Linked DNA regions of Homo sapiens: region 2 is linked to region 1. Evidence: fine-mapped expression QTL. A gene starts in region 1. The other region holds a variant in brackets. All regions are shown on one strand. Distances are from middle to middle.

Region 1 (8,315 bases):
CACCCTCCCCGTGCTATCTGAACACCGGCCATCCCCCTCCCCAAACCCACAACCCCAGGAGTGAGAGCCCCGGCGCAGCCTCACCGTGGCCAGGTCCTTCTGCGTAAGCCCCTTGCTCTGCCGACCTTGCTGGATCACCTTGCCCACCTCCAGGGTCACCCTGTCATGGTGCAGCTCCTCTGTCTCCCGGTCCAGCTTGGCCGTGTTCTTGGTAATAGAATGTTGTTTGTTCTGGCCAGCAGCCCCTGGAGTCGGTGTGAGGCAAAAGCAGAGGAGAGGATTTGGAATTAACCTGAAGAAAAACCATTTCAAAGCGGTAACCAGACCCCAGAGGCTGCCTGAACTCAAGGGGACATGGGAACCCAGGCTGTCCCAAGTTCACACACCTCAGGTCGTGGACTTCCAGAGTTTTCTCTCAGTTATGAGGACAGGCAGCTGTACTCATGCCAACCAGAGCTGCTCTGGGAAGATGGCTGCCTCCCAGGGCTCCGGCCAGCACCGGTGCAGGCAGGCACTCAGCTGACAACGTCCCCGGGGGCGCCGCACACACCACACCCACCAGCACATGGACCCCACAGCACAGCCTCATGTTGCAAGCGGAAACACAAGTACCTACATTTCTTGGAAGTCTCCACATCTTCTCCTCGTCTCTGTGCCGCTAAGATAGCCTAGAAAATTAGAAAACATCAGTGGATCAAAATTAGCTTTGACAGTATCCAGCACACACCAATTCAGGCCTGCTGTTAGCCAGTTAGCACACTGCTAAGGACTAGTGGTGCCCAAGGACTGATATGCAGTCCTGGGTTCAGTTACCTAAGCTCAACTAGGCACCATGGCTTATGCCTGTAATCCCAGCACTTTGGGAAACCGAAGTAGCAGGATCACTTGAGGCCACGAGTTCGAGACCAGCCTGGGCAACACAGCAAGATCCTGTCTCTACAAACAATAAAACACAACAAAACCCCAAACTCATTATACAAAAGCCTCTACAATCAGATGTCTAAGAAAGTCACAGTTAACTGCTAAGAGAACACCACTTCCTTTGCTGTTGAGAAAGACACACTAGGGATTTTTTTTTTTTTTTTTTAGAGTTGAGGTCTTGCTATGTTGCCCAGGCTGGTCTGGAACTCCTGGGCTCAAGTGAGCCTCTGGCCTCAGCCTCCCTCCTGAATAGCTGGTATGCGTTAGTGGATTCTTTTTGAGAAATCATATTTAGCACAGATTTACTTTTCTGCTGGACTCTACTGCAAAAGTAGGAAGGAACACCAAATACTGGCCTGGTGTGGCCTTCCTCCCTGAATCTGGTTCCTAGTAACACAGAGATGACACATCTCATGGAAGCCTGCAGGCTCTCCAGAAACATCACCAATAACAGTGATGCCATCTCATCTACAGTCACTGAATATTAATATAATGTATTTATTAACTTTTTTTTTTTGAGACAGAGTCTCACTCTGTTGCCCAGGCTGGAATGCAGTGACACGATCTCGGCTCACTGCAACCTTCGCCCTCCGAGTTCAAGCAATTCTCCTGCCTCAGCCTCCCGAGTAGCTGGGATTACAGGCTCCTGCCACCGTGCCTGGCTAATTTTTTGTATTTTTAGTAGAGACGGGGTTTCACCATCTTGGCCAGGCTGGTCTTGAACTCCTGACCTCATGATCCACCTGCCTTGGCCTCCCAGAGTGCTGGGATTACAGGCGTGAGCCACCGCGCCCGGCCAACATTTCTACCACTTCAGAGGAGTGACTTGTGGAGCATCCTAAGTGTGATCTGCTCACAGATGCTGCCACGCAATTATTCCCATGACTCCTAGCTTGTGGCCATTAAGTTTCCTTTAAAAGAAAAGGAGAGTGAATTTGGTTTTGACTGTGCAACCAGTAAGGGTAGGGCAGACCAATGAATCCCTGTCACCAGAGCCCCAGCGCATCCTGGCCCAACTGGCCTCAAAGGCTTCAGCCCTAGGCCACCTGAGGGTACGAATGAGGCAGAGGCGGTGACTAAACTGTCCTCCCTATTACATCAGACTCACAACTGACCCTCGGATCCATCAGCCACATTGGTAATCTCCTTCCACAAGTACTGTTCAGGGCACGCCCATCTTCCACCTGTGCAACAGGGTCCACCTGCTCATGGGGTCCCCTGAAGCAGGCACTCTCTACAGCCTGTGATGCACCCAGGCAGGCTCCCTGGGCAGTATCTGACCAGCGGAGACCAGTAGAACCAAGCAGGTCCCAGGCAGAGAGAAAACTCTCAGGGAGGAGCCTACCCCCTGTCCCCAGCTCCCACTCAGGTCACTAACCTCTGCCCCGTCACCCAGTCTCCCGCCCCAGGCCCTCAACTGCTGTCCAATGGCCCCCAGCCCTATCCCAACCCCAATTCCCCACCTTCATCGCTGGTTCCTGCTGCTTGCCCCAGTCCCCACCCCTGTCCTAAGCCCTGTACCCCACTCTACCCTGTTCTTCCAAGCCCTGTCCCCATCTCCATCCCTGCCCCCGTTCCCAGTGCCCACCCTGGTTCTCTGTCCCCTATCCTCACACAAGGCCCCCAGCCTTGTCCCCGTCCCCGTCCCCACCTCCTGCCTCTGTCCTCACACCTGTCCCCACCAACAGTCCCTGCCCCTATCCCCTCCCCGCCCCACCCTGGCACTGGTCCCGGCCCTATCGCCTGCCCCTTGCCCCGTCCGGTTCCCTGCTCCTCTCCTCCTCCAGTCGCCCGCCCCCTGCCTCCTGGGTCCGTCCATCCCCTCCTGGGTCCGCCCCCCACCTTCCCACCCCTGTCCTGGCCCGGTCCTCCTACCCCTGCGATTCGCCCCGCCCTTCGAACCCCGTCCTGCCCCCGGCACCCCAGCCTTGTCCCCGTCCCCTGCGCCCTGTCCCAGGCCCCGCCTGCCCTTCCCCGAGCCCCCTGCCCCACGGTCCGTGGCCCCGGCCCAGCGTCCGCCCCGCCCGGCCCGGCCGCTCCTCAGTCAGCAAAGCACCTGCTTGGATTTGGCCTGGGCGGCCGTAGGGCCCTTCTTGCGCAGCACCGTCACCGTGTCCCAGTCGCTCTCGGCCATGGCGGGCGAAGACGAGCGTCCGTCCGGCGGCTCAGCGGCAGCTGCTAGAGACCTGGCGCGGCGACGCTACGTCCCCTCGGCACCTCCCCGCTTTCGGCGTCCCATTGGCTGGCTGCACGCGGGGGGCGGGCACTTCCCGTGCTCGGGGCCATTCGGCGTTCGGCTCGTCTGAGGGACGTCGTGGCCGGGCGCCGGCGACGTAGGGAAGGCGACGTCGGGGCCTGGCCTGGCCTGGCGAGGCGCGGTAGCCGCTGGGGCTGCAGGTCGGGAGGACCCCGGAGCCCGGGCCCCGCGGCCTCCGAGCACACGCGGGCGGCGGCTGCGCCCCGACGCGCAGCCCCCGTGCCTCCCCGGGCCCCGCACCCCGGCCGGGCCACGCGGGCGGAGGGGGCGCGGGGTCTCCGCTCTAGCCGTGCGGCCGCCCCCCTTTGTTTTGCCGCCTGCGCGGCTGGGACCTGCGCTCGAGGACCAGGGCCGTGGGGCCCGAAACGCAGCGTGGGGTGGGACACTTTTTTTTTTTTAACTTTTATTTTTTGAGATGGAGTCTTGCTCTATCGCCCAGGCTGGGTGCCGTGGCGCGATCTCGGCTCACTCCGTCTCCCGGGTTCATGCCATTCTCCTGCCTCAGCCTCCCGAGTACCTGGGACTACAGGCGCCAGCCACCACGCCCGGCTAATTTATTTATTTTATTTTATTTTATTTTTAGTAGAGACGGGCCAGGATGGTCTCGATCTCCTGATCTCGTGATCCGCAGGTGGGACTCTTTAAGAAAAAGAACGCAAGCCGGGCACGGTGGTTCACGCCTGTAGTCCCAGAACTTTGGGAGGCCGAGGCGGGCGTATCACCTGAGGTCGGGAGTTCGAGACCAGCCTGACCAACATGGAGAAACCCCGTCTCTACTAAAAATACAAAATTAGCCGGACGTGGTGGCGGGCACCTGTAATCTCAGCTACTCGGGGAGGCTGAGGCAGAAGAATCAGTTGAACCCGGGAGGCGGAGGTTGCGGTGAGCCGAGATCGCGCTATTGCACTCCAGCCTGGGCAACAAGAATGAAACTGCGTTTCAAAAAAAAAGAAAAAGAATGGAAAACTGTGAAAACATCGGTTGCAAAAATGAATGGTTTTGCATGATGTTTATTTTCTGTAATGTATAAAGTGTATATGTTATATGACAATAATTCTGTAATACCCTATTTTCCAGCCGTTTTGTATAATGAGAAAGGTCATTATACATTATCATTGAACAACTTTTTTAGGATTTTTATTTTTATAGACAGGGTCTCACTCTGTGGCCCACGCTGGAGCACAACATTGAGATCTCAGCTCACTGCAGCCTCGACGTCCTGCGCTCAAGCGATGGGACTATAGGCGCGGCCCCCACGCCTGGCTAATTTTTGTATTTTGTGGGGTAGAGATGGGGTCTCCGTGCCGCCCTGGCTCGTCGGTCTGGAACTCCTGAGCTCGCGTGATCCTCCCGCCTCGGCCTCCCAAAGCCTGGGATTACAGGCTTGAGCCACCGCAGGCCCTAATCATAGTATTGACTTCCGGGCTTTGAATAGATGCTCCACAAACAAGGAACCTGATAAATGCAGTCTCCATCCAAAAAGAAAACATACATAAATGCTGTATTAAATTGGAAATGCTGCATTAGCAAATGCACTCCGCGGAGGAGACAACTGTAATTCTAACCAGGCAGTGGGAAGTTGAGTCTTCTGCTTACCGTTTTTCACACCGGATGATTGGAAGAACCTTGGGGACACACTGATGGCTCCGTCCATACAAACCTTGCTTCTCTGTTTCCCGCCGACTTCCAGCACCAAGCTCCGTTCGGCTAAGGACTCAACAGCCTCAGCCGGCCAGCAAGGATGTGCTTCCACTGAATGAAAATAATCTCTTGTGGCCGGGCGCAGTGGCTCACTTCTGTAATCCCAGCACTTTGGAAGGCCGAGGCGGATGGATCACGAGGTTGAGAGATCGAGATCATCCTGGCCAACACGGTGAAACCCTGTCTCTATTAAAAATACAAAAATCAGCTGGGCATGGTGGTGCGTGCCTGTAGTCCCAGCTACTCAGGAGGCTGAGGCAGGAGAATTGCTTGAACCGGGAGGCGGAGGTTGCAGTGAGTCGACGACACCGCACCATTGCACTCCAGCCTAGGGACAGAGCAAGACTCTGCTGTCTCAGAAAAACAAAAAAAAGAAAGAAAGAAAAAGAAAATATCCCATAAACTCTGACTGGATGTATCTCCACTCAAGTCCCCCTTTGTTGTGTGCCAAAAATGCTTATCGTCACTCCAGTGCCACCAGCCCCCAGGAAGATTGTGATGAAGGTGGAGTTGGCCTGGAAAGAGGCAGCCTTGTTAACACTGCAGTTCAGGCCTCCTAACATGACAAACTTAACCAACACCTGATCTCATGAACGCATTGGGAGGCCCTTTTCAGAGCCTGGGAGACCCATGCAAGTGGGGCTCAGCTAGCTCCGTAGTGAGCCTGGGCTGAGAGAGAGGGGACAGCTACATCTAGCTGTCCTCTGCAGGTGTCCACCAAGACAGCCGTTGTCCCATCTGGCCCTCCATCGGGAGTCCAGGCCTGATGCCACAAGTCACTTGTGCCCTGTCCTTGGCACTCCCTGCACCAAGGCATGATGGATACAGGTGTCTGTGTGAGGCTGTCCTCACTGCCCACTCCGTCCCACTCCATCCCACTCCGTCCGTCCCACTCCGGGGTCGTTTGTTTGCACTCCCTCCTATTCCTGGATTCTTCCGACTTCGGGCCCAGAGGAAAGCAGCTGATACAAAGAAGCAGCTTTGGGGGGTCTGGTGAGCCTCTCGTATCTCACTGGAGATGTTGCACCAGTCTGTCTACCAGTTATCCATTTAGCTTCATGCATGGAGAAAAGACAATTCCAAAGACTTCTGGAGAAAAAAAGTCTCTTCATTTCCATCTGCAGATCTTAGTGTCTCTCTGGCATAATTTCCCTCCAGCCTTTCTTCGGTCCTTTTAGTACCATCTGCTGTAGTTTCATCTTTCATTTAACTGAAAATGTCTCTATTTTGCCCTTGTGTTTGAAGGATACACTATTGTATAAACGTCATCCCATTGTCTTCCAACTTCCATCCTTGCCAGTGAGAATCAGTGATCAGTCATTTGTGTCCTGGTTCCCCAGCAGGTTATGTGACAATGTGGCATGTCCTCTGGCTCTTTCAAGACTATCCCTGTCTTCAGTTTTCTTTTTCTTTTCTTTTTCTTTTTTTTTTCTTTTTTTTTTTTTTTTGAGACAGGGCCTCACTCTGTTGCCCAGGCTGGAGTGCAGTGGCACAATCATGGCTCACTGCAGCCTCAACCTCCTGGGCTCAAGTGATCCTCCCACCTCAGCCTCCCAAAATACTGGAATTACAGGCATGTTCCAACACCCCCAGCCTGATCTTCAGTTTTCTTAGCATGTGCCTAAGCATATTTTCCTTTGTATTTACCTTGCTTGGGTTCACTGAGCTGCTTTTTTATTTTATTTTTTTTTGAGATGGAATCTTGCTGTGTCACCCAGGCTGGAGTGCAGTGGCACGATCTTGGCTTGCTACAACCTCCACCTCCTGGGTTCATGCCCAGCTAATTTTCTTTTCTTTTTTTTTTTTGAGATGGAGTTTCGCTCTTGTCATCCAGACTGGAGTGCAGTGACATGATCTAGGCTCACTGCAACCTCTGCCTCCCAGGTTCAAGTGATTTTCCTGCCTCAGCCTCCTGAATAGCTGGGATTACAGGCACCTGCCACCACGCCTGACTAATTTTTTGTGTTTTTAGTAGAGACGGGTTTCATCATGTTGGCCAGGCTGGTCTCAAACTTTTGACCTCAGGTGATCCGCCCGCCTCGGCCTCCCAAAGTGTTGGGACTACAGGCGTGAGCCACCACATCTGGCCCACTGAGCTTCTTAGGACTATATAGTACCACACATTCACCATGTCGGAAACATTTTCCTACTATTTATTTATTTAGAGACAAGGTCTCACTGTGGCATCCAGGCTGGAATGCAGTGGCGTGATCACAGCTCACAGCAGGCCCAACCTCCCAGGCTTAAGCGATCCTCCCACCTCAGCCTCCCACAATGCAGCACTTTGGGAGGCCGAGGTGGGAAATCGCTTAAGGCCAGGAGTTCGAGACCAGCCTGGGCAACATGGTAAAACCCTGTCTCTACAAAAACATACAAACAATTAGCTGGGTGTGGTGATGTGTGCCTGTGGTCCCAGCTACTCAGGAAGCTGCAGTAGGAGGATCACTTGAACCTGGAAGGTCAAGCCTATGGTGAACCATGATCATGCCATCGCACTCCAGCCTGGACAACAGTAAGACCCTGTCTCAGTAAATAAATAAATAATAAAAGTCTCACAGGACAGCTTGGATTTTTAAAAAATCAGTGGTCACCCCCTGTCCCTCTGCCCACCATGTTCCCAATCCCCAGAGGTTACTGCTTCCAAGTTTCACAGCTGCTTTGTACTTTTGGGTGTTCACTTCCACATGTTTAAGTGACATGCTTACTCCGCTCTCACTATGTCTTCTTTTTTCTGTTTTTGAGACGGGGTCTCACACTGTCGCCTGGGATGGAATGCGGTGGCGCGATCTTGTCTCACTGCAACCTCCGCCTCCCAGGTTCAAGCAATTCTCCTGCCTCAGCCTCCCAAGTAGCCAGGACTACAGGCACATGCCACCAAGCCCAGCTAATTTTTGTATTGTTAGTAGAGACGGGGTTTCACCATATTGCCCAGGATGGTCTTGAACTCTTGACCTCATGATCTGCCTGATTAGGCCTCCCAAAGTTCTGGGATTACAGGTGTGCCCAGCCAATATCTCAGTTTTCATAAGTAATCTAGGTAATCTGTTAAAAATAAGTATATTAGTACACACAATGCCAATGTGCCCTAAATACGTAAATAAATAAATAAATACATTACGTAAATGTAAATCTGATAAATTCGTTATTTTTTTGCGACAGAGTCTCACTCCATCTGTTGCCCAAGCTTGAGTGCATTGGCACAATGTCAGCTCACTACAACCTCCACCTCCTGGGTTCAAGCGATTCTCCTGCCTCAGCCTCCCGAGTAGCTGGGACTACAGGTGCACGCCACCACACCTGGCTAAATTTTGTATTTTTAGTAGAGATGGTGTTTCACCATGTCGGCCAGGCTGGTCTCGAACTCCTGACCTCAGGTAATCCACCACCTCAGCCTCCCAAAGTGCTGTGATTACAGGTGTGAGCCACCAAGCCCAGC
Region 2 (8,328 bases), 70 kb after region 1:
AGTGAAGGCCATTCTGGTAAGATCTCAGACAGAAATGAAGAACAAGGTGTCAGAAACTGGAGGAATGACCATCCTAGTTATAAAGTGGCAGAGAACGTGGCTGAACGGTGTCCATGCCCAGTCCTTCCTTTGTGGAAGGAACTGGGATATCTGGCTGAAGAAATACTCAGGGTGTGGCATGTTTTCTTCTAACTGCAGAGAGTAAGATGTGAGAAGAGAAATGAATTAAAGATGGAATTTATAATTAACAAGGAAAGAATAGGGATCGTAAGGATTTTCAGCCTGCCCATTTAGGGAGTAAATAAGATGTCTTTAGGAGAACAGACCAAGTGTGTGGCCAAGCAACTTAGTATGGACAGAACGAAGCCAGAGGCTGCTCATCAGGACAGTGGGAAAATGGCCCCAGAGGCATTTCAGATTCCTGGTGCTGCCCCTCCCACCACAGGCCCAGAGTGCCAAGGCCTTTGGGAAGGAAATATGTCAAAAGAGAGGTGTAGGGTGTGGACCTTAGAGCCTGCTGGCCAGGGCCACCCCAAGTCTTGGCTGTCTGCATTCCAGTGCAGACCCCCTAAGCCACTCCAGCCTGTCTCATGTGGACCCAGGGAAGGTACAAGTCATAAGCCTTGGTGGTGTCGATTCTGCAGCCTTGCAGGAGCTGTGGGGACATGGCTTCATCCACTGGGTGTCACACAGGATGTCACAAGTCTCCAGGCCAGAGCCATGGCAGAGAGCCCACACTAGGGCAATATGTGGTAGAGCCTTGGGGATAAGGCCACCCCTGAGACCCCAGAACTGGAGAGCCTCTAGTGTTCATTGCCAGCCTGGGAGAGCTGAAGGCACGAGACTCCAACCTAAGAGAGTTGTGTGAGGTCTGAGCCCAGCAAAGCTCTAGGGGTGAGGTTCCCAAGAGCCTGAGGACCCAGCCGCACCCCACGGCGTGCAGAAGGCAGGATTTGGAGTCAAAGATGATGATTCTCAAGCCTTAGGATTTAGTAGTATTCTCCCTGTTGGACTTTGGACATGCTTTTGAGGCCTGTTATTCCTTTCCTCTTTATAATTTATCCCTTTGGAATGGAAATGTCTGTTCTATGCCTGCCCTACCATTGTATTTTGGAAGCACGTAACTTGTTTAATTTCACAGGCTCATAGTGGAGGGAAAGTTGCCTCAGGATGAATCATGCCTTGAGTCTCACCCATGTTTGATTTAGACGAGACTCTGGGCTTTGGACTTTTGAATGGGGCCATTGGGATGGAATGAGTATATTTTGTATGTGAAAAGAACATGAATTGGTGTAGGGGCAGGGATGGAATGCTACGGTTTGAATGTTTTTATCTCCCAAACTCATGTTAATATTTAATTGTCATTGTAACAGTGTTAAGAGGTGGGATCCTTAAAGGGTGATTAGGTCAGAGGGAAGATAGGCTGGAATTGGTGCTGGTATAATAAGATGAGCTTGGCCCTCTCTTGCCCTTCCACCTTCCACAGTGACACAACAAGAAGGATTGCACCAGACGCTGGCACCTTACTCTGGGACTTCCCAGCCCCCAGAACTGTGAGCCAATAAATTTCTATTCCTTATAAATTATCTGGTCTCAGGTATTCGGTTATAGCAGCAAAAACAGACTAAGAGAAGACAATGTTTGTGCCCCCCCCACCCAATTTCCTGTGTTGAAACATAATCTCCAATGTGATGGTACTTGGAGGCAGGACTTTTTAGATCATGAGGGTGCAACACTTGTGGATGGGATTCGTGCCCTTAAAAAGAGGCTGCAGCCCAGTATGGTGGCTCACGCCGTAATCCCAGCACTTACGGAAGCCGAGGCAGGCGGATCACTTCAGCCTAGGAGTTCAAAACCAGCCTGGACAACATGGCAAAACCCCATCTCTACAAAAAATATAAAAATTAGCTGGGTGTGGTGGTGCATGCCTGTGGTCCCAGCTACTTGAGAGGCTGAGGTGGGAGGATCACTTGAGCCTGAAGGTCGAAGCTGCAGTAAGTCATGACTGTACTGGTGACTCAAGGCTGGGCAACAGAGTGAGAACCTGTCTTTTTTTTTTTTTTTTTTTTTGAGATGGAGTCTTGCTCTGTCGCCCAGGCTGGAGTGCAGTGGCGCGATCTCGGCTCACTGCAAGCTCCGCCTCCTGGGTTCACGCCATTCTGCCTCAGCCTCCCGAGTAGCTGGAACTTGGTCTCGATCCTCCTGACCTTGTGATCTGCCCACCTCGGCCTCCCAAAGTGCTGGGATTAACAAGCGTGAGCCACCGCACACGGCCTTTTTTTTTTTGTATTTTTAGTAGAGACGGGATTTTACCATGTTGGCCAGGCTGGTCTTGAACTCCTGACCTCAGGTGATCTGCCCGCCTTGGCCTCCCAAAATGTTAGGGTTACAGGCGTAAGCCACCGTGCCCAGCCTTTTTCCTTCTCTTTTTATAGATACCTAATCTTGGTATGAATGGTCCTTTTTACATCTTCTATTTTTTTGCTGAGACTTTCATATTTTTACATCCATTGCAAAATGTTTGTGATTGCTTGCTCTGGCATATTTATAGTAGCTACTTTAAAGCCCTTGTCAGATAATTTCAGCATCTGTGTCTGTGTCACTTCCTCCCAAGCCTGGCGTTTGGTTGGTGAGGACTTGCAGGTTCCCCCTGCATATCGGGAAGTGTGAGTTTTTGTTCAGGGTGCATCTACCTGGGGCCATGGCATAATGTTCATCTGCAATGATTGTAAGGTGTTCAGATTTTGTAAATCCAAATAAAACTGTTTTAAAGAACACAATCCTCAGCCGGGCATGGTGGCTCATGCCTGGAATCCCAGCACTTTGGGAGGCCGAGGCGGGCGGATCACGAGGTCAGGAGATCGAGACCATCCTGGCCAACACAGTGAAACCCCGTCTCCACTAAAATAATACAAAAAAATTAGCCGGGCATGGTGGCGGGCGCCTGTAGTCCCAGCTACTCGGGAGGCTGGGGCAGGAGAATGGCATGAACCTGGTAGGCAGAGCCTGCAGTGAGCTGAGATCGCGCCACTGCACTCCAGCCTGGGCGACAGAGCAAGACTCTGTCTCAAAAAAAAAAAAAAAAAAAAAAAATCTCTCTCTCCTACATTGCTGTCTGCAAAACAATGGAGGTTATGGATGTTAGATTGCATCTCGATGTTAAACCTTTGCTAATGTACTTATGGGAATCACAAAGATTCTGTTTGTAAATACAGAAGTGAATTGTAGACATAAAATGGTTGTGCCATGTGGATAATGGCAGGCACTAGGTGACATTTATGTAGTAACTAATGACAAAAATTCATGGCTAGTGGCATATAAAATACTCTTTGCAGTAAAATATTTCCTTGATTAATGTTATAGAAGGGGGACATAACAAGGAACTCACAGTTGGTGTGGCAGCTAGCCTCAAAGACTGTCTTTCATTTGGTTTCAGCACCTCCTGTTTGGGGTTATTAGCATCTTAGAAGAGCACGGTGGCCTTGTCTGATGAAGCCGAATTGTGCTGGTCTGTTCCGAGCTGGTTTAAGTGTTCTGATGGGCAGCTGTGGATGTTGGGGTTCAGAGCTTAGTCATCGTTGCCTGAAATGGCACTAGACTCTACAATTTCTGCCTTGGAGAACACTCAGTTCTTACTTGTGATTTCTGGTAGAACAAGCTTTATTTTTCTAGCCTAGTAATGATCTTGAAGCAGAGGAATCCCAGTGCCTTTTAAGAATTGTGTTGGCCGGTGCGGTGGCTCACGCCTGTAATCCCAGCACTTCTGGAGGCCGAGGCTGGAAGATTACTTGAGCCCAGGAGTTTGAGACCAGCCTGGGCAACATAGACCTCATTTCTACAAAAATTAAAAAATAATAAAAATTTGTTGTGTGGTTTTTTAAAAAAGCTACTAATTGTTTTTGGGAAATAGAATTTATGGGTCTTTACCTTTGCACATTGAATCTTTTATTTTTTATTTTTATTTTTTAGAAACAGGGTCTCTGTCACCCAGGCTGGAGTGCAGCGGCCCGGTGATTGCTCCCTGCAGCCGTGGCCTCCCAGGGAACTAGGGTTTCAGGTGTGAGCCGCGGTGCCCAGCTGCAAGTTGAAATGTTGTGGTTCTTCGTGTGTCAAGCAATTTTGGGCTATATTCTAGACATTTTGAATATGACTTTATGAGATCTGGGTCAT[G/A]TTTGAATCCTGTGGGAAATGTTGAAGTCTGGTTAGCAGGCACTTGGTCCTGTGAAGGTTGGGCCCACATTGTTCCTGCCCGCATGAGTATCTTTGGTTAGCAGGCACTTGGTCCTGGGATGGTCAGGCCCACACTGCTCCCACCTGCGTGGGTGTCTTTGGTTAGCAGGCACTTGGTCCTGTGAGGGTTGGGCCCACACTGCTCCCACCTGCGTGGACTCCTGTCTTCAGAGCTGCTGGTCTTTGGTCTGGGACCCAAGGCTGGTCTGCAGTTCCCCACGTCCATGGTGTGATCATTAGACCCATGTGTCTGCATGTGAGCTGAGCCCGGCATCCACAGCCACCCCATGTGGGTGCTTCCCAAGCTCCCCACGCTGGGTTTGGTTGCTGGGCTCACTCACTGTCAGTTCAGACAGTGACATGCCCTTGACTGGGCCGCGTTGGAGTCTATGTGGCAGGAGGACAGGGGAGGAAAGCTAATGGGGGTGGTCCCACCCTCAATACAGCCGCACTGAGCTGTGAGGGACTTTCTGGCCCCAAGTTTGGCTCTGATGGGTTCCTGTAGCCACCACTCCCACTGCCATCAGGGTCACAAAAGAATGGAGAAGAGGGTAAACCCAGGGCATTGCCTCACTGACCCTGCGCATCGGCGTGGGTTCCTTTCCCTGGCCCTTAGGGCTGCTCTGGGCTTTCTGCCTGGCCCCAGCACTCACGTCCGGTGTTGCGGCTGCGTGGAGTTCAGGTCATGGATGTTAGGTCAAGCACCAGTTCTGCGAAACTTGGGATCTTGCTGCTGCTCCCTGACCCAGCTCTCTGGCAGCTGCTCCAGGCCCCGTGCACAAGTTTCATAGCTGCAGTTTCACAGAGTTCACTCTGTCGCCCAGGCTGGAGTGCAGTGGCGCAATCTCAGCTCATTCCCGGGTTCAATGAATTCTCCTGCCTCAGTCCCCTGAGTAGCTGGGATTAGAGGTGTGTGCCACCACGCTCGGCTAATTTTTTTTTTTTTTTTTTTTAAGTACAAAAGGGGTTTCACCGTGTTGGCCAGGCTGGTCTTGATCTCCTGACCTCAAGTGATCCGCCTCGGCCTCCCAAAGTGCTAGGATTACAGGCATGAACCACCACGCCCGGCCTGACCTCAGCATATGTTTTCTGAGGACTTCTGTTCTTTTGCTAATTCAGTCACTTTCTCTTTAAACACTGGGTCTCCACCCCTGCCCCGTAGATGGGGTGGGGGCATGCATGCCGCTCCATTCCCCTCCCAGGGCTGTGTTTCTTTCGTCTCCTCTGTGCCATCTTCTGCTGCCTGGTCCTCTCGTCGAGTCTGTCTGGTCCAGCACTTTCCACATATCAAGATTTTTTTTTTTTTCTTTTCCTTTTTTGAGACAGAGTCTTGTTCTGTCGCCCAGGCTGGAGTGCAGTGGTGCAATCTCGGCTCACTGCAAGCTCCGCCTCCCAGGTTCACGCCATTCTCCTACCTCAGTCTCTCGAGTAGCTGAGACTACAGGCGTCCGCCACCGCGCCCGGCTAATTTTTTGTATTTTTAGTAGAGACAGGGTTTCACCTTGTTAGCCAGGATGGCCTCGATCTGACCTCGTGATCTGCCCACCTCGGCCTCCCAAAGTACTGGGATTACAGGCGTGAGCCACCGCGCCCGGCCTACGTATCAAGCTTTTGATGCAGTCACTCGCCCTGTCATTTTCCAGTGTCTAATTGGCTCCCTTTTTATTTTGAAATGTCCAAGTCCTCTTGATTTCTGTCCCCACTTTTGTTTTATGGTGCATAGGAATGTTTTTGTTAGTCTCCTTGAATGTGAACGTAGGTAAGTCCTTTTCAGGAAATTGCTCAATTCTTTGGAGCCTGCCCGTGGTGTGCTTGCATTTACAGAATCTGTCAGCTCCCTTCTGAGGGTGTTAGTCTCAGGGCAGCTTATCTTGTCTGGGGGTCTTTGGTGTGTCTTCCTTCCTTTCCTTGTTCTCGCCCACGTTGGGGGTTTTATTATGAACTGCAGTGGTCCCCAGGGCTTCCCAGCTGGAGACCAGGAGTTGGCAGGGCAGAGGCTCCGTCCCTCTGGGTGGCGCAGCCTCTCTCGGTGGTGCTGTCCCTGATCCCGTCGGTGCTCGAGCTCAGCCCCAGGGTCTCTACCTGCGGCCCACGTGGCTCAGGGGAACCATCACCTCGACACTCACTCGTCTCCTCTGCGTCCTTTCTCTGTACGGGGTTGCTTGCTGCCATGTTTGGAGCCACAAGCTCTGTGTGCTTCCTATAATGGGCAGCTGACCCGAGTGCCAGGCTCTACTCCTGCCATCTTCCTTGTCACCACCATCGCCCCGGGCCCCCGAGCTCCCGGTGCAGTTCCAACAAAGCCTGTGGGGTCCAGCTGGAGCTCCACCTCTGCTCCCACTTCTGGGCCCCTGGTCCCATCCTCGCCGGCCTGAACTGACTGTGGAGACCGCCCTGGCACTGGGAGCGACACGGCCTGCCGACTCTGGACCCAGCAGCCGAGGGACTCCCTCAAGGACGGGACTGTGGGGGGCCGCCCTGGCACTGGGAGTGACGCAGCCTGCCAACTCTGGACCCAGCAGCCGAGGAACTCCCTTAAGGATGGGACTGACTGTGGGGGCTGCCCTGGCACTGGGAGCGACGCAGCCTGCCGACTCTGGACCCAGCAGCTGAGGAACTCCCTCAAGGACGGGACTGACTGGGGGGGCTGCCCTGGCACTGGGAGTGACGTGGCCTACTGACCCTGGACCCAGACGGCAGGCCCTGCATGCTGCCAGCCCCGGCACATGTGCCAGGCATCTCCCTGGAGGTCATGGAGGACAGGGCAGTGTGACAAAGTCTGGCACCAGCACATGACCTCAGACGCACATGTCACCTGTCAGCAGTGACTGCAACATTCACTCCAGTAGGACCACTGTGCCAGCAATAACAGCGTCACCCGTCAGCAGTGACCATGAGGTCCACTCCACTGTGCCAGCAGTGCCCACAGTCTCCCTCCCTGCAGACAGAGACTGGACAACAATGTGCTGTTGCCAACTGTTTATTCAGGGCCCTGAACGGGTGGTGCGTGGACATGCAACACACTCGGGCCCACAGCAGCGTGACCGGCCGCTCCCAAGCCCCGGGCGCACAACCACAGCCAGGAGCAGCCCCTGCCACCACTGGGCCACCGTCCAGGGCCCCACAGGACCAGCCGAAGGTGCCCCGGGCCGAGGCCAGCTGGGTCAGGTGTACCCCTAGCCTGGGGTTGAGTGAGGAGCGGCACCCCCAGTATCCTGTGTACCCCAAGTTGCCCAGGAGGCCGAGGGGGCCTTGGGCTCCATCTGCACTGGCCACCCCGTGCCAAGCATCACAGCTGCGTGAGCAGGTTTGTGTGTGAGCGTGTGGCGGGGCCTGGTTGTCCCCTTCCTAAGGCGTAACTGCTATAAGCATCTCCACCTCTCCCGCTCGGGAAAAAGCCACAGAGCCTGGCGATGTCCTCAAGGGGTCCCGGTGGCTCCAGTGCACCCAGCACACCTCAGCGCCTCTGGCTGGCAAGCCAGGAGAAGAAGGTGCGAGGCCGTGGGCGAGGTGCCTGGAGGACGCGCATGGTGCGTGGGGAGCGCCAGGCTTTGATGGTGGCGTCGTCGCTGGCCGTGAGCAGCAGCTCCTGCTCCTGGGGACTGAAGACCACTGAGTTGACCACATCCTCGTGCCGCAGCCTGGCCAGACAGATGTTGTAGTGGCGGTCCCAGATGTAGCCGTGCCGGTCCTCCGCCCCGCTGCAGAACAGCGCCTGGGTGAGCCGGCCGCCCGCCCGCTGCTGCCCACACCCGCCCTGCACCACGCCGCGCCCTGCACCTGGCCACGAAGTCCCTGCTGACGTCCAGGAAGATGAAGAAGCACTCGTCGTTGGGCGTGTAGGCGCGGTGCGCACGCAGAGCCCGCCTCACCTCCCGCATGGTCTTGAGGTCGAACACCAGCAGGTCAATCTCCTCCGCGATTGGTGGCGGCTGCATGGGGTCGGCCACCACCGCACCGTTGGGCCAGGCGCGGCTGTTCACGTACAGGTACCTGGGCGAGGGGCACTGTGCTAGGTGTGGGCCGCCTGCGGGCACCCCGCCTGGGACACTGGCAAGAGGCCCACCTGTTGTCGGGCGACAGGCCCATGCCGATGAT

Evidence for each region.
Region 2: its variant is fine-mapped to the expression of EDF1 in whole blood (INTERVAL, PIP 0.96).

What each region holds. Positions count from the first base shown.
Region 1 is chr9:136,863,204-136,871,518 of GRCh38, forward strand. It overlaps EDF1 (endothelial differentiation related factor 1), which reads right to left and starts at 3,105. Exons shown (of 5, transcript NM_003792.4): 1 at 2,978-3,105; 2 at 617-668; 3 at 85-245. The coding sequence starts at 3,055. RefSeq lists silencers at 2,807-2,996, 3,097-3,406.
Region 2 is chr9:136,933,241-136,941,568 of GRCh38, forward strand. FBXW5 (F-box and WD repeat domain containing 5) reads right to left here. Exons shown (of 9, transcript NM_018998.4): 7 at 8,297-8,328; 8 at 8,011-8,223; 9 at 7,195-7,931. The coding sequence ends at 7,688. Among named protein-coding and RNA genes, the nearest start is that of FBXW5, 7.3 kb to the right of the region's middle. RefSeq lists enhancers at 4,204-4,817, 4,818-5,430. The variant G/A (reference allele first, on the strand shown) is at 4,171.